Linked DNA regions of Homo sapiens: region 2 is linked to region 1. Evidence: fine-mapped expression QTL. Tissue or cell type: esophagus muscle. Region 1 holds a variant in brackets; the other region holds the start of a gene. All regions are shown on one strand. Distances are between the middles of the regions.

The links. PIP is the estimated chance that this variant, and not a neighbour inherited with it, causes the effect.
Region 2: GRIN2C starts here. The variant in region 1 is fine-mapped to the expression of GRIN2C in esophagus muscle (GTEx, PIP above 0.99). The same link has a PIP of 0.9 or more in gastroesophageal junction, prostate, sigmoid colon, tibial nerve and transverse colon.

The regions. Positions count from the first base shown.
Region 1 is chr17:74,804,521-74,812,735 of GRCh38, reverse strand. All of the region lies in intron 8 of SLC38A12 (solute carrier family 38 member 12), which reads right to left. Among named protein-coding and RNA genes, the nearest start is that of SLC38A12, 32 kb to the right of the region's middle. RefSeq lists an enhancer at 1-538. The variant G/A (reference allele first, on the strand shown) is at 3,092.
Region 2 is chr17:74,855,705-74,863,709 of GRCh38, reverse strand. GRIN2C (glutamate ionotropic receptor NMDA type subunit 2C) reads left to right here and starts at 3,825. Exons shown (of 13, transcript NM_000835.6): 1 at 3,825-3,966. FDXR (ferredoxin reductase) reads left to right here. Exons shown (of 12, transcript NM_024417.5): 11 at 464-634; 12 at 763-1,213. The coding sequence ends at 893. RefSeq lists an enhancer at 2,300-2,998.

The sequences.
Region 1 (8,215 bases):
CGCACAGAGACCTGTGGGAGCTGACCACGGAGCACTCGGGCTTGGAGTGAGGAGGGCGCAGGGGGGCTCATCTGGGTGGAGGCGGAGCGCACAAATCGCACAGCCGAGCTCCCTGATCCTGGAGGTTATTTCAAGCGATAAAAGAAAGGATCCCCCAGACTCCAGGGCTGCTCTTGGTGGGCACAAGGGGTTAAGAGTTAATTGGGGTTAATGGCAACTCAGCATGAGCCCGTCCCTAAATGGGAAGTGAACTTTCAACACGTCCTTGAAGTGTAGTGAAGAAACGTTCAAGGATTCTATTTTTATTTCTCAAGTGGCTGTGAACGTTTTGGTTTGGAAGTTTTTATTTTCTCAACTTGAATTACAGTATCTGGGGATTCACCCACACGAAGGTGAGTTCTGAGGCAGTGTGGGTCAGCTGAAGGACCACAGGCTTCAGGGTCACGTGGCTAGGGCAGGATTTGCATCCTGATGTCCCTTCTAACTGCGAGAGCTTTCAAGTTCCTGAACCCCTCAAAGCATGCTGCGTGTGCACAGAAGACACTCAACAGACATGAGCGTGGCTTCCTGACCCCCTGTGTCAGCACACACCAAGTCATCACTCCTGTCCAAACATCTCGGTGGGGGAACGCAGCACTCCTGAAGCCAAGCAAGGAGCTCCAACCAAAGAATGTTAAGTCAATGCTATTTTTTTTTTTTTGAGGCACTGTCACCCAGGCTGGAGTGCAGTGGTGCGATCATAGCTCACTGCAGCCCCGAACTCCTAGGCTCAAGCGATCTGCCCGCCTAAGCCTCCTGAGTAGCTACGACTACAAATGCATGCCACCACATTCTGCTAATTAATTATTATTATTATTATTTTTTTTGCAGAGATGGGGGTCTCACTATATTGTCCAGGCTGGTCTCAAACTCCTGGCCTCAAGTGATCCTCCTGCCTTGGCCTCCCAAAGTGCTAGGATTACAGGCGTGAGCCACCATGCCTAGCCCCAATACTATTCTTTTCTTTTTTCTTTTTTTGAGATAGTCTCACTCTGCTGCCCAGGCTAAAGTGCAGTGGTGTGATCTTGGCTCGCGGCAACCTCCACCTCCCAGGCTCAAGTGATTGTCCTGCCTCAGCCTCCCAGGTAGCTGGGGCTACAGGCATATGCCACCACGCTTTGCTAATTTTTGTATTTTTAGTAGAGATGAGATTTCACCATGTTGGCCAGGCTGGTCATGAACTCCTGACCTCAAGTGATCTGCCTGCCTTGGCCTCCCAAAATGCTGGAATTACAGGCCTGAGCCACCATGCCTGGCCAGCCTGGCCCCCAGTACTATTCTACTATTCTTATTTGACTTCCATGAGGTCCACCCAAGTTCAACTATGGTCCAAATGCATTTTTTTGTTTGTTTTTTTTTGGTTTCTTCAGACAAGGTCTCGCTCTGTTGCCCAGGCTGGAGTGCAGTAGTGTGATCATGATTCACTGCAGCCTTGACCTCCCAGGCTCAAGCAATCCTCCCACCTCAGCCTCTTGAATAGCTGAGACTACAGGCGTGTGCCACCACGCCTCGCTAATTTTTGTATTTTTTGTAGAGACAGGGTCTTACCATATTGCCCAGGCTGGTTTCAAACTCCTGAGCTCAAGCAATCTGCCTTCCTTGGCCTCCCAAAGTGCTAGGATTCCAGGCGTAAGCCACGGTGCCCAGCCCCAGTACTATTCTTATTTGACTTCCATGACCTCCACTCAAGTTCAACTACAGTACAAATGCTCTTTAAGACAGTCCAAGTTCTTCCCGACCAAACACAAAGGATCATTCACCATGCGGAAGACGTCTGCCAGAGAAAGAGAGCAGGAGCCGTGTCAGAAACCATGCCGGCAGCCTGTGTGCACCAAATCCCATGAACCACTGTCACAGCTTATTTGCCAAAACTCTGTGATGAGAGGCACCATGCCATCTAGAGGAGGTCGTCCGAATTCTGCGGATGATTGCACTTTCACAAGGAACTATATAAGGATGAGCTTCCTAAAATGTTCTCGACAGGGCAGAGGGTGAGCAGCGCCCCTCCTGAAGACCAGCCCAGGAATGGGCTGACCCAGAGACTGGGAGGGGATGGGATTTGTGCCAGGACAGGCTGTCGGGTTCTAGACACCAACGCAAGCATGACAGACAGTGCCAATCTTGCCCCCACCAATTCTCAAATACTGTGTACCTGGTGCAGAGTGAGAGATGAGGACAGGCGGAGGCTGGCTGCCTCCCTCAGTGCACGTCCCTCTCTGCAGCAGTGATTAGTGTTAGCCCAACACCTGCCATAACGCACTTTTTGAACAAGTTAGCATGGCCCTTTGTCCTTGGCTCCCCCTGATCTTCCCAAACCCCTCAACTAGAAGGTCCTTGGGAGATGCCTACTGAATAGACTCCAAGTTTGAAAGATTCACATGATGACCGAAGACAGAACTGACGGTTGATGCCTAGATGACTCTAAAGAAGTGGGTGCCCCCTGTGCATTAGAGGCCAGCTCTATGCACCTTGTCACTAGGTCACCATTATCTTCAGTAAAAAACCATGGCTGCTCACGCCAAGCTGGCAGCCTCGTTCTGAATGCGTGAGTGGAGAGACGGAAGATCTACAGCTCTTCTCAAAGACGGGAGGACACTGAGCCTCCAGGCAGAGGCAATCATGAGCCAAAAGTGAAGGTCCCAGCAGCGTGTTCCAAAGCGGCCACCAAGCTAGAAAGCAGAGGAAAGAAACCAAATCCTCGCAGCAGGAGCTCAGCAACCAGGGGCTGGTCGGGAGGAAAGACCCGTCCCTTCGCCCAGCTAGCGGAGATAAAGATGAACTCTGGGCACATTCTCGGTACAGGTACAGACTGGCCAACAGTGGGGCACCTGCGCTACCTCTGCTCAGATACTTGTGAAAATGTTATTCGACTCTGATGCTGGGGAACCTGGAAGAATGATTTCAGGGAGAAAGAAACCAGGGGAAAGGTGGATGGATGCTCTCTTTTATGCAACGTTGCCCCCTTGGACCTGGGGGGCCAGGGCTCTCAAGCAGCCCTGGTCCACCGCCTGCCTGAGCTATTGCAGGTCCAGAACACCACCTCCCAGGATGC[G/A]ATGTTAGCCTGTGGCTGGGAAAGAGGCGGCATGAAGGGGCTGCGTGAGAGCTTCCCGCACAGAACCGAAGCAGCACCCGCTCCAGGAGTCTGGCCATCCCATGGCAGCTGTGACGCAGGCTGCATGGGACGAGAGCTGCCTGGACTCCCCTGTGCGGGCTCCGAGAAAGACAGGGAGAGCTGGACAGCACGGGAGGGACAGTCCAGAGCCACTGTGGCACCGCTCACGACTCCTGAGGAGCCTGGGGGAGGCTGCTCTGAGGCTCAGCCCTGTCAGTGAGGAGACAACCAGAGGCGTCTGGAAGGCAGTTCTTGGGTTTGCTGTTACTCCCCAAACACTGGCTGAAGGACCGTCTTTGAATGTTTGACAGCCGAAAACCTCCCCAGGTCCCTTCCTCAAACCTCTGCTTCCCCCTTTTCAAGGCAAGTGGAAACAGAGCCAAGAAAAACCCATATACTTCCTTTTCTGAACCACCTCCTCTGAATACCCCGTACCCCTACGTAAATGACATGCTCAATTTCTTAGTTAGGGACCTGAGGTTTGTAACCTATCTTTACCGGAGCTCTGGGAGGCAACAAAATGAGCATCTTCTCCCTAACCCCTTGATGGTGAAAAAGGAACGTCAGAAACTTCCTATCAGGCAGAGTGCGGCTCATAGGAGCCCGTGCGTGGGAGGCATGTGGGGGAAGGTGCCACCTGGGAGGGAACCTAATGCCATGACCCACTGGGGGCTCCTGCAGCACCGGATGCGCAGCCTGGCTTTGACCTGCCAGAAAACTGTCCATGCACTGTGGCCGCTGCAGGAGGGAGCCTGTGTCTGCCCAGAACACACGCTGTGGCCCCCAGGCAGCAAACTCCACCCACCTTTGGAACCAGGATGAGTCCACACACCTGGTAATACCCCGCCTGTTGTCTCCAAGCTTCTAGCTGGGAGCTGGTATTAAGCTCACACTGAGGGGATGCTGGTGGCAAGAGCTCAGCCCCTGAACATGACACCCTTCTCTACCTGGAGCCCTTCCCAAGCTCTCCAAGCTTCCCGAGACACCTGAGACTGATGTCTGTCATTCCAGAGAAGGCTCTGCCCCGGGGCAGGGAAGACGAGGCTCAGAACCAGCAAGTGGACTGGCACTGCCAGGCACTACCAGAGTGCCCAGGCAGGATGGCATCTTCCAAGGAGAGCTCCTCCCTGCAGACACCTGCACCTTGGTGACTGTCTCCACTTGGTAGGAAACAGGTTGAGAGGGATTCATTTGTCCCAAACCTCACACTGCTTAGATGTGGCAGGGATTCGAAACAGGTCATCTTCAGTCAAAGCCCAGTCCCTCTTTAGAGCACCCAGTTCCTCTTTAGAGCACTCAACTGTCTCCTTTGCTTACATCCTGATGGAAGGGCTGTCTCCTCTGCCATCCACTCTGTGGCCCCCTCAAGGCTGGCGCCTTCAGGGCAGGACTGGGCTGGCCCAGTGGCCTTGGCCTGGCCTCTCATTGGAGGACAAGCTGCCTGCCTGTGTGGGCTCTTTCTCGGCTGAAAAGCCAGATGGTACCCGATGGTGGGCAGAGTTCCAAGTATTTGATGCCAGAGCTGCAACCCTTGTGGTTTAGGGGGAAGGGGAAGATAAATATTGTGGAAAACCCACACAGTCATTTGCCTAATGATTATGAGCCATCAGGGTTTATAGAGGACAGCCCGGCTCTTCACAAGCCTGACGGAGGACCACGGAATCTAGCACCTGCACATCCAGGTGAAAAGACCATGGGTTCTGACCTTGACCTAGGAGAGCTTTACGGATGTTACGTGAGGAGCTGGGGTGGGGCAGAGGGCATGTGTGCGCAAAGCTGTGGGACGTGAGGAACAGACCTGTCTGTGGAGCTGGCGCCTACTCTAATCCGTCACTGTCCGAATTTCAGATGCAAATTGGTGGTGCTGGAGAAAGAGACGGGTGACGAGCTGTCTGTGACTTCACGGCAGTGGACGGATTCCAGCTGCTCCCTTCTACTTCTGCCCCCCAAAGACAGAAGTGCTCTGGCACTTGCGGAGGGGAAGCTTGTCCTGGCAGCGAGGACCAGAGGATGACCCGCCCACTGGGAAAGGAGGGGCTGGCTGTGCATGGAGTCTGTCTTGCAGAAGCAGCAGCCACTAGCTGTGGTGGGCTCTGGCCATCAGCAGGCTAAGGCCCAGGGGAGGGTTGTGTGCCAAAGCCCCGCCACAGGCCCAGCAGTGGCGTCCACCTGTAAGCAGTTTCCCTCATTGCAACCTTCAGGGAGCAACCACGCTGCGATGGGCCATGCTGGCTCTAGACGGAAAGGTGAACGAGACGCAGCCCGTGCCCTGAAGGAGCTCACAATGAGGTCAAGGAACGGAATAATCATAAAAGCCCAATTAATGCCATGGCAGGGGGTGAGGGAAGAGGGGTCCTGAGCTCAGTGTGGACTAGACGAACGCTCCTCTGACTCCAAAGCAAGGCACAGGCACGTGGTGGGCCAGGCCGTGACAGCACTCGACGTCTGGGGATGACACTGGCGGGGTGGGGTGGGGGGGTGTCTGGGGGAGAGAGAAGGCTCCAGGAGACTGGGGCAGACCATGCCACGTGAGGGAGTTTAGACTTTGCTTTCTGGAGAGGAGCTTCTGTGGGGTTTTAAGCAGGGAGATGGCAATCAGACTGCCCTAAAATCAGGGTTGACACAGAAAACCTTCATGACCCTGGGGCAGTTCTGCTGTGAGGCGCTGGGTGTGCACACCAGGGAGGGGGCTGTGACAGGCTGTCCCTCGTCATGGAGCCGTGGGGCGGGACACTCCTAACATGATGAGGTTTTTAAAAGGGACTTTGATCCTTTGAACTAGGAGTATAGACAGGGGTAGGGGGAGATCAGGGAATTTCATTCCCATCCTATCGGACAGAGGAGGGAAAAGGCCATCCTAGGCCCTCCTGGGGAACCTGATGGGAGACAGAGCGAGGAATGCCCACTTTCTAGGGCAGGCTCTAGAGAAGCCTTTCTTCCCCACGGCAGGAAGAAAATAGGGACTGTGAGGAAAGGCAGGGCTCTTATAGAGGGTTTGGCAGCTCTGAAGAGCATGAAAACCTCTTTTCCCGGCTCTCCTCGGCCGAGTTAACAGATCCAAGGACCAAAACTCCTCTGGGCACTACAGGCGTGGCTTACTGGCTCTCATGTTTTAGTTTTTGAGATCTCTCTACAAAAACAGCTCTTTTAGTATTTATGCTGGATGTCAAGGAGGAGGGAGGGGATGGGTGCACGGCATTATTCTCCCCGACGGCTGTGCCTGGAGAGGCTGGGTCTGGGTTAGCCGGGGTCACAGTATACCACTATCTTATACCAGTGAGAAGGCCGGGGCATGTCTTGCTTGGCCACATAACTGCTGGGGGCTGGGCTACCACTGTTGGGGCCAGGCTAGGGGTCAACTTGATCCTCACAGGTCCTAAGAACAAGAGAGCGTGAGAGGAACAGGTGGGCTGTGTCGCAAGTGACAGAGGATGGGGGACCCTCTGAGCCATCAATCTAGCCCCTCAGCTCCCTTGGGAAAAAACACCCACACCTCCAACCACCTGATTCTGCCAGGAATTGAACTGCTCAGAACATTCATTGGTGGTGATGTGTGTGCCCATGGGCCTCGGAACCCATGAGGCCGCTTGCGTCTCCAGTAACCAGCTGGCATCTGATGGCTTTTGGTGCCCAGAGTCTAGCTGTCAATCCCCCGCCCTGCCCTGGGAACAGGAGGAGGCAGTGCCATCGCCCTCTGTTGCCCGGAGCTTGTGCGTCACTCAAGGAGAGGTGCCAGGCGATCACTTGAGATGCTCTCGGCATCTTCCCTTCCTCGGTCCATGCTCTCGGCGCAGGAAGAGCAATGGCAGTGGGAACGCTCCAGCAGGAGCTGGAGGAAGCAAGGGAGGGAAGTCAGGTGCCCAGAACACGGGTGCCCTGCAGAGAGGGCTGCACAGGCCCAGCTGGCTCCACCCCTTTTCTGCTGACGTCTGGCCTTGAAATAGACCGGGAACTGAGTAACCTTGGAGGCGGGACGGAGGGGAGATGGCATATCAAGCTGGCTGATTAATGAGCTCTCTTGAAGCGGGTTTGAGAAGTGACATCAGCAAGCCCCCAGCTTCCTCCCTAGTCGGGGGTCAGAGTGAGATGCCCTCTCCGGGGAGCTGGCACGCTGCGGGGTCTAGAGCCCCCAACCAGCAGCTTCAGAGGAAGCTACAGGGGAAGCCTAGAGCACCACCCGCTAGGGACATGGGAGGTACCCGTCAGCCGCAAGTGACAAAGCAGCCTCCAGCCAGTGGGCACGCACAGCCCCTCTTCTCTCTGGCAGTGCCTTAGGTGTGGACTCCAGGATGTGGCAGCACCTGTAGGTTGCCCAGCCCCTCTCCTTTCCCTGCAAAAGGCAGGCACGGGAAGCCCTTGACAGCTGCCTCCACCATGGTGCTGTGGGAAGCAGTTCCTGAAGGAAGACCAGAGTAGGCCTCTCCCCGGGAGACCTTTTACTACCTCGACAGATCTGCGCCAGCAGGATTTCTCAAAGGGAAAAGCACACAGAATTCTCCTCAGAACTGGTTGAAAATGCGGATTCCTGGGCCCTGTGGCCTTCGAATATACTGCATCAGGCCTGGCGCAGGACCCAAGCATCTACATTTTTATTAAGAGCCCGAAGGCACTCTTGTGCCAGTGGTCAGGCAACCAGATCTTGAGAAACACTTTCCTGATCCAGGGGAAAGGGACCAGCTGGGAAGTGTTCCCAGAGACTGTTCACCTGCCTCTCAGGTGAAGCACAGCCTCCCTGCAGTAGTGTGGGAGAAGGCGCCAGAACTGGACATTACAGACCGCAGGGGCCTCCCGGCCTCAGCCAGTGCCCAACACCCAATACCAGTCCCTGCATTCTCTTCCCATCAAGGTGTTCAGAAAATGTCTCAATCCATGGTTGAAGGAAGTTCTTGCCATTGCCAAACTACACATGCCCTGCGGTGGCTCAAGACCCTTCTAGAGTCACACTCACATGGGGTATCTGCTGCCACACCCCCAGTGCCTCCTTTTGTGCCTGAGGCTTATGAAAATGTTCCTTGGTCCACTGTCAGCGAATCCACAAGACATCCGGGCTTATGCTAATTCATC
Region 2 (8,005 bases), 51 kb before region 1:
ATGTGACATACGTCGGGTCATTAAGTCATTCAACAAACGTTTACTGAGGTCTTTTCTGGGTTAGGCCCTGTGCTTAGTGCTGGGATTGGAGATTAATAAGGCAGCCTGTGTCCTCAGGGAGCTTCCAGTTTTACTAAGTGCCCACATACCTATCTAGTGATTAATTCACTTGGTAAACATTTACCAAGGGCCTACTGAAACTGCAGGGGAGCAAGCCTCAGCTCCTAAGCTTAGGGATCCCCTCATCTACAGGGAAACTGAGGTGTAAGGGGGTCGGCCTGGTAAAAACAGGGAGAGAAGAATCCAGGGCAGTGGACCAGCGGCCACAGCAGGCTCAGCCGACAGTCTGCCAAGAGGCGTGGGGTGTCTGTGTGCGTGCACGTGGGTGTAGATTGTGGGCACAGGATGGCCAGGGTGGTATCCAGCCACCTCCCTCCCTTCCCCTTTTGTTACCCCCTCTCAGGCCTCTACTGCAGCGGCTGGGTGAAGAGAGGACCTACAGGTGTCATAGCCACAACCATGACTGACAGCTTCCTCACCGGCCAGATGCTGCTGCAGGACCTGAAGGCTGGGTTGCTCCCCTCTGGCCCCAGGCCTGGCTACGCAGCCATCCAGGCCCTGCTCAGCAGCCGAGGTCTGGGCCCCGATGCTGAGGTCCTGGGAGGTGGGGTGGGTGGTCCTTCTCTGGGCCTCACTCTTTGGGAGGGGGCTGTTCTGGGAGGGGTGAAGGAGGAGGTGTTGACAATCTCCCCTCTGCTTCAGGGGTCCGGCCAGTCTCTTTCTCAGACTGGGAGAAGCTGGATGCCGAGGAGGTGGCCCGGGGCCAGGGCACGGGGAAGCCCAGGGAGAAGCTGGTGGATCCTCAGGAGATGCTGCGCCTCCTGGGCCACTGAGCCCAGCCCCAGCCCCGGCCCCCAGCAGGGAAGGGATGAGTGTTGGGAGGGGAAGGGCTGGGTCCGTCTGAGTGGGACTTTGCACCTCTGCTGATCCCGGCCGGCCCTGGCTTGGAGGCTTGGCTGCTCTTCCAGCGTCTCTCCTCCCTCCTGGGGAAGGTCGCCCTTGCGCGCAAGGTTTTAGCTTTCAGCAACTGAGGTAACCTTAGGGACAGGTGGAGGTGTGGGCCGATCTAACCCCTTACCCATCTCTCTACTGCTGGACTGTGGAGGGTCACCAGGTTGGGAACATGCTGGAAATAAAACAGCTGCAACCAAGAGCCATGGTTGATGGGGGACTTTTTTTGGAAGGGTTGGGGTCGGGGGTCACCTTCTGGCCGTAGCTCCCCTACCATCACCAGGTGGCGCTGCAGAGACGGCTCCCTGCTCAGGGGCCTCATTGGGGGCTTGATGGGGCTCGGCAGCCAGGCCTGGCATAGCCACCCTTCCTTTCTCCGCTCGGCCCTGCTGTGGCTGCGGGTTGCCTGTCTTCTGTCCACACTAGGGCTGCCCGGGACCGGGACCGGGACCACCCCTCCCTGGGGAGCCCTCAGTACAATCAAAACAGAAAAGAAATGGGAGCGGGGGACTGAGAAGCAGCTTGTCCCCTGTACCTCTGGGTGCCCCAGGCGAGTCTAGCCTGGGGCCCATTCTTTGGCTCTCAAAGCCTTCCTGCTTCCGTTTCCAGTCAGACACACTGGCCTTTAAAAATAGTGCCTCAGTCTCCCTAGGGCTTTGCAGTGTCCAGAGAGTGGTCACTCCCTTTTATGGCAGCCCTCAAGATGCTGCCTCGCTGTATAACCTGAGGGGTCCTCGAAATTGGCCCAAGGTCACACACTCGTGAGCTGCGGGCTCAAACCCAGGCTCCGGGCAGGCTGGTGTGTCCTCCGAGGCGCACTTGCCCCGAGTGTCAGGTCTGGGGACGCGGTTCCGGAGAGGGGAGAGGGGCCCGGGAATGCGGCGGGAGGGGCCTCGAGGGGCAGCGGGCCGGGCCGGGCCGGGGCGGAGGTGGCGGGCCCCGGCGGGGCGGGCCCTCGCGGGCGGCGGTGAGAGCTCCCGCACAGTCGGCTGCGAGCTCTGGGAGCAGGAGGCGCGGTGCGCAGCCCAGCCCGGGACGGAGCCGGGCGCCGTGCGAGCTTCGGGAGGGTCGCGGGGCGCAGGGGCGGGTCGGGGCCAGCGGACCAGGCCGCGCCACCCGCCCCCGCCCCCGCCCCGCCGCGCCCGGGCTCCGGCGCCCGCGGAGCTGAGACTGAGCGCGCCAGCCCTCCGGGGCCGAGGCTCTGGGACAGACACCGCGAGGGAGGCGGCCGGCGCGGGCTCTCGTCGCGGGCGCAGCGCCCCTTCCCCTCGGTAAGTGGCGAGCGGCGGGCGAGGGGCACCAACTTCGCCGCCAACTTGGGGCTGGGTTCCCGCGGCGCGCGAGCAAGGACGGCGGAGACAGAGGCGGGACACCCGGGGGGTTGGACCCACGCAGGACTCTCGGGGCTCAAGGAGGGGGCGGCTGGAGGACCCGGACCCTCAAGAACCTGGCCTTGGGTTTTGACCCGGGCGGCCGGAGAGAAGGCGAAGAAGAGGCCGAGCAGACAGGCGCGCGGCGGACGCGAGAGAAGGACGCGGGCGAAGCGTCCAAGACGTTCGTCCCCAGGGTCGCCGAGCCCTCCTCCTCCTTCGCTTGGCGCGGCAGCACCGCGGGACCAGGGGAGTCTGGGCTGCCGCGGACCCAAACTGTTGCTGCTGGAAGCCGCCGGGGCGGAGAGCGGGGAACAGGGCCGGGAGTGGGGGCCGGGGCTGGGATCCACCAGAGCGAGGGGTTGGAAAGGAGTCGAGAAGGTGAAAGGGGGCTGTGCGGCTCCCCAGCCCAGTGCCCCAGTTTCCCTAGGTCTGCTGGGCACCTGCTGCGCACTCGCCTCGGCGCCCAGACCCCTTCCCCCGCCGCGAGTCCCGCTTCTTCCCCTTCCAGCTCTGCCCCATCTCCTTTGCCCCAGCCTAGCTCTCTCCTTCCTGCGACCTGGGAGAATCGGAGTGGGCTTCCAGAGTAGTGGCATCTTGCAGATGCTGGCCCGTGCCCGGCTCCCGGGCTTCCAGAGCGCAAAGGGAAGGGTAGGCAGAGAGGGCACTGGGCGAGCAAGACCTGGCGCTGGGCCCTGGCTGCGCACCAGCCGCCTGCGCCGGTCTCTGGGGGCTTCGCCCAGGATCCCCGACGGCGGGGAGGGGAAGCCCCGAGTCTCCTGTTTCCTGCCTACGCGGGCAGGGCGGGGACACGCGGAGCAAAGGCACCCGGCAACCTGAACCCCCAGGTGCGTCCCGCGACCCTGCAAGGAGCTGCTGGGTGAGCAAGACGGGAATTCCCGCCAGGCCCTGATGCCCACCCCATTCGTCCACTCGGTTTCCCAGCCCTGGTCGTCCAAGGGGACTTCTGGCTCGGTCCCCCAGCCCTCGGATGGTGGCGTTATCTTAGTTCAGTCCCTGACCCCGGGCCACAGGAAAATCGAGGAAAGACACTTATTTGGGGAGGGTACCATTCCGCTGGCTGTATTTCAGAGCCCGTCCAGGTCTTGGCGGTGCTAGTGACTTTGAGCCTGTTTCTAAACTCCCGAAGAATAAGAGCGTGCCAGGGGCAGGTAGGCAGGTCCGGGACACCTGGGTTCGCCCAGGGCCCCCGGGCGGGCCTGGGATGGTACTGGGGCCGCCTGCCAGGCTGGCTTGGTCCCCCCACTGCGGGACTCGGGGTCACGACCCAGCTTGGGGGAGTGGGGGTGGGGGCCCCGGAGCCGCGGACGCCGGCGGGGGGCAGCGTGGGGCGGGGGGCGCCGGGTGCGTGGTGCTCAGCTTGGCCGCCAGGAGGCGTGGCGCGGGTCCCCGCCCGGAGCCGCCGCCGCCGCCGCCGCCGCCGCATCGCGAGTGTCCTTGAGCCGCGGGTGACGGTGGCTCTCGCTGCTCGCGCCCCCTCCTCCCGCGGGGGGAGCCTGATGCCACGTTCCCTATGAATTATTTATCGCCGGCCTAAAAATACCCCGAACTTCACAGCCCGAGTGTAAGAGATTGCTGCGGAGGGGAGGGGGCGGGGCGTCCCGGTGGCCAGGGGGAGTCCGGGCGGGGTCCGCGGAGACGGGGGCCGTAGCCTTGGAGGAGCAAGAACTCCGTGCCCCCAGCAGTGGGGCAAGCTAGAACGGCGGTCCTCTCCCCTGGCGCCTGGGTTCGGGTTTTGGCTGGGCAAAAGGGAGGGAGGGAAACCCGACGGCAAAGGAGGGGCGGCTCACCGGAAGGGCAGGGGGTCCGGGGGTTCTGCTGGTGGGTGGGGAGGACTCCTGCGACAGAGTTTCCTAGCCTGGGAGAGGGAGAGCCATCGGTATCTCAGATGTGAGCGGGTATGAGTGCGGGAGTGTGCATGTGTGTGCAGGTCCGTGCCAGGGGGTCTGGCTGAGCTGTGAGGACCCGGGAAGGAGAAGGCCCCCAGCCTGGGAAGGTGCTCAGACCCTTCTAGATGCTGCTGTGTCCTGCAGGACTGACCACTGCCATCCTCTCTGGGGCTCTTTGGGGATCTCTGTGTTTGTCAAACATTAGTTTAAGGGCTGTTTGTGGAAGGGGTGAGACCCTGAGTGGGTGGGTGGGCAGAGGTCTCTGAGACAATGTGTCTGCCCTCAAGGAGCCCGCAGTCCAGTGTGGGGCAGGGTGTTAATGAGTGCACACACACCTGCCGCAGGGCAGAATGGAGGGGTGGAGGGGACCACTACACAGAGCTCCCCACCCAGGAGGGGAAGCCAGGGCAGGGGGAAGAAGGGCAGGTGCCCCAGCCTGGCCGCAGTCCCTGCGCCTAGAGCCTGAGGCATCAAGGCAGGTGCCTGTGGGAGAGGGATTTCAGCTGGGCCCTGAAGGAGAGTAGACTTCTGTTGGGATGAGGACATTCCAGCCTGGGGGATGCTGGAACGAGGCCTGGAGATGAGGGCAGAATGGGGCTGTTTGGCCAGCAGACTGGCAGAGCTGTGGGTTCCAGGGATGGGAGGACGGTTGGTTGCGGTCAGGGTGCAGAGGGCTCTGTCTATGGGACTAAGCTGTCTGGACTTCATTTGTGGGCACCAGGGTGTAGCTGTCCTGTGTGAGGAGGGAGCAGTGGCTGGAGGAAGGCTTCAGCAGTGCAGTGGGGCTGGCGGGGGTGGGTAGGTGGGAGGTGGGGAGGGGGAGGCAAGGGAGGAGATTGTGGCGGGGGAAAGTGGAGTTTGTCCCTCCTACCTCTGTAGGGTGGCTGGGTTAGACGGGGTGATGAGACAGAATTCGGAAGCTCCTTGAGTCTGCCCCTTGCTATTTGGAGCCCAGGGACTTACCTAGTTTTGGCCCCTGGCTCTGGAGGTATTCTGGGATCCCTCCCCCATTTTAGGCCCCTTGATTAGAGGTACAACCTGCCTCAACTCCCCCACCCCCCGACCCCCAACCCCCAACCCAGCAGGACACCTTCCCTTTGGAGAGAGTCTCTGGTGTCCCCAGCCCATGAGGATGTCTTCCTATTGGAGAGAGTGGGAATGAGAACATTTTCAGCTATTACCAGACCCTTATTCCTTCATGTGAATGAGCTCTAGGTCCTTGGCTAAGAAAAGGTCTTGACTGGGGAGGGTGGAAGCTTGAGGGGAGTAGGGAGTTGGAAAGAGAAATACATTTAGAAAAAGGAGGTTGGAGATGCTAATGGCAGACTGCTTATTCTGCCCCTTTGCAGTTGAGGGAGAGCCTGGGCCCTTCATCCAGGGTCACACTGTCCAAAGAAATAAAATGGGAGCCACAAGTACAATTTAAAATTTTCTAGTAACCACATTAAAACAAATAGAAACAGGTGACGTTAATTTTAATAGTATATTTTCTTTGACTAAACATACCCCAAATGTTATTATTTCAACATGTAATCAAGATACAAGTGTTTACGAGATTTTTTACATTCTTTTTCCCTGTTGTCTTCAATGTGCAGTGTGGCATGAAATTTTACACTGATAGCAAACTCCGTTTGGGTGAGAGATGTTTCTGGTACCCAATAGTCGTGTATGACTGGCGGCTCCTATACTGGGCAGCACAGATCTAGAGCTCATTACTGGGAGGCAGGGGTAGTAGGAGGTTTGGGGCTCCCCAGAGGGCAAGGAACCTCTAGGACCTGGAGGTGTGGGCAGAGGTGAGCAGACAGAGGCCGTGCAAGGGGAGCGACAAGCATGTCAGTGTCCTTTGTGGTTGAGATCTGACATCCCTGATTGGTGGTGGCAGCTGAGGCATGGCATGGCATGGCTAGGATCGATCCCTTGCCAGACTCAAACATGTCTCTGGGCTGTCAGTTCTGTCACTTCTGTCACTTCTGTGTCACTGTACTAGGGAACCGTACACATGGGAAGATTTCAAGGGCGCCACCATGAGAGCAATATTCCCTTCCTTGCCAAAACTCTTGTCTTCTTGGCCTGAAATTCTACCACCTGGCACTTTAGCTTAAGGCTCTGATTGTGGTTAAACTACATCTCTCTTGGGAATGAGAACCCTTTCAGCTATGATCAGTCCCTCATACCTTCCTGTGAATGAGCTCTAGATGCTTAGCTAAGAGAAGATCTTGACGGGGAGGCTGGGGAGTTTGAGGGAAGTAGGGAGAGAAGGTTGGAAAGAGAAATATATTTAGAAAAAAGGAGGTTGGAGGTGCTAACAGCAGCATGCTCATTCTGCAGATTTGACTCTAAGTTCCTGGAGGGCAGGGACCATGTCTCACCCATAGGGACATTCCACCATCCAGCGCCTGCTGCAGGGAAGGGGCTCAGCACACACGGGCCAATTGATGTTTCTACACTAAAGTTGGTTTAGTGGGTTCCCTGGAGGGATCCTTTCAGTGCCACCCTGGGGAGAAGAGGAACTTTCCTGAATGTTCCTGGTAGCCTCTTGCACTTCCCCGCTCTCTGGATTCCTTAGAGAGAACTAGAGATACAAGAAGGCCCATATGTCTGTAAGACATTAGGCTTTGGATTAAAAAAAAAGAGAGAGATAGCTGGGTGTGGTGGCTGACGCCTGTAATCCCAGCACTTTGGGAGGCCGAGGTGGGCAGATCATGAGGTCAGGAGATCGAGACCATCCTGGCTAACACGGTGAAACCCTATCTGTACTAAAAAATACAAAAAATTAGCCGGGCATGGTGGTGGGCGCCTGTAGTCCCAGCTACTTGGGAGGCCGAGGCAGGAGGATGGCATGAACCCGGGAGGTGGAGCTTGCAGTGAGCCGAGATCGCACCACTGCACTCCAGTCTGGGTGACAGAGCAAGACTCTGTCTCAAAAAAAAAAAAAAAGAGAGAGAGAGAAATTTGGTGGCAGGCAAAAGGAAGGCCCTGTGAGAAAGCTGGAGCCTGCCCAGCAGTTGTCTCGGGCCCCATCCCTGAAGGGCATCTGTCTTTCGGAGGCGTGGTTTCTGGCAACTGCTTGATTTTCGTGAGCATTTCTGTAGCAGAGATGTGCAGATCCTGGGGGAGGCGGGAGGGCTGGAGTGGCAGGCTCACCCTGTCCACCCTTTAGCTCTTCCCTGCTCAGAAGTTTTGCTGGGGATGTGATGAAGATGGGAGAGATGGCAGTGCCATGGCCGATGGCCAGCTGGGAGGGAGAGTGACATCCGTGGGCACCACTCCACTCAGGCTTTGTGTTACCCTCACTGCTGTGGCTCTTGGTCCCAATCCAAAATAATGACATTTAGCAAGGATACGTGTCAGGCCCCTGGGTTGGGTTCAAAAGATCCTGCACGCCAGTGATGGCCCGAGAGGCCAGCTCACCAGCTCATGTGTAACAAGACCAAACCCCAGCTCACCAGCTTGGGTTTTCCGGTACCCCTGAGCTCTGAACAAGTCAGTGCTGTTGCACCCTGCTGCGGAAGAGCTGCTACTAGCTGAGGCCACAGAAGGAAGGGCTGTAGTGACGTCCAGTGCCCAGGAGGAGGGGGCTCTGTGCCAGGCAGAACCATGCAGAGGAGGGCCCTTGGGGCTGGCCCCATGGCAAGCAGGGCACACTGACCAGTAGCACAGGCCCTGGTGAGAGACAGATGGAAGATCCGGTTTAGACTATGAGGAGGACTGGCC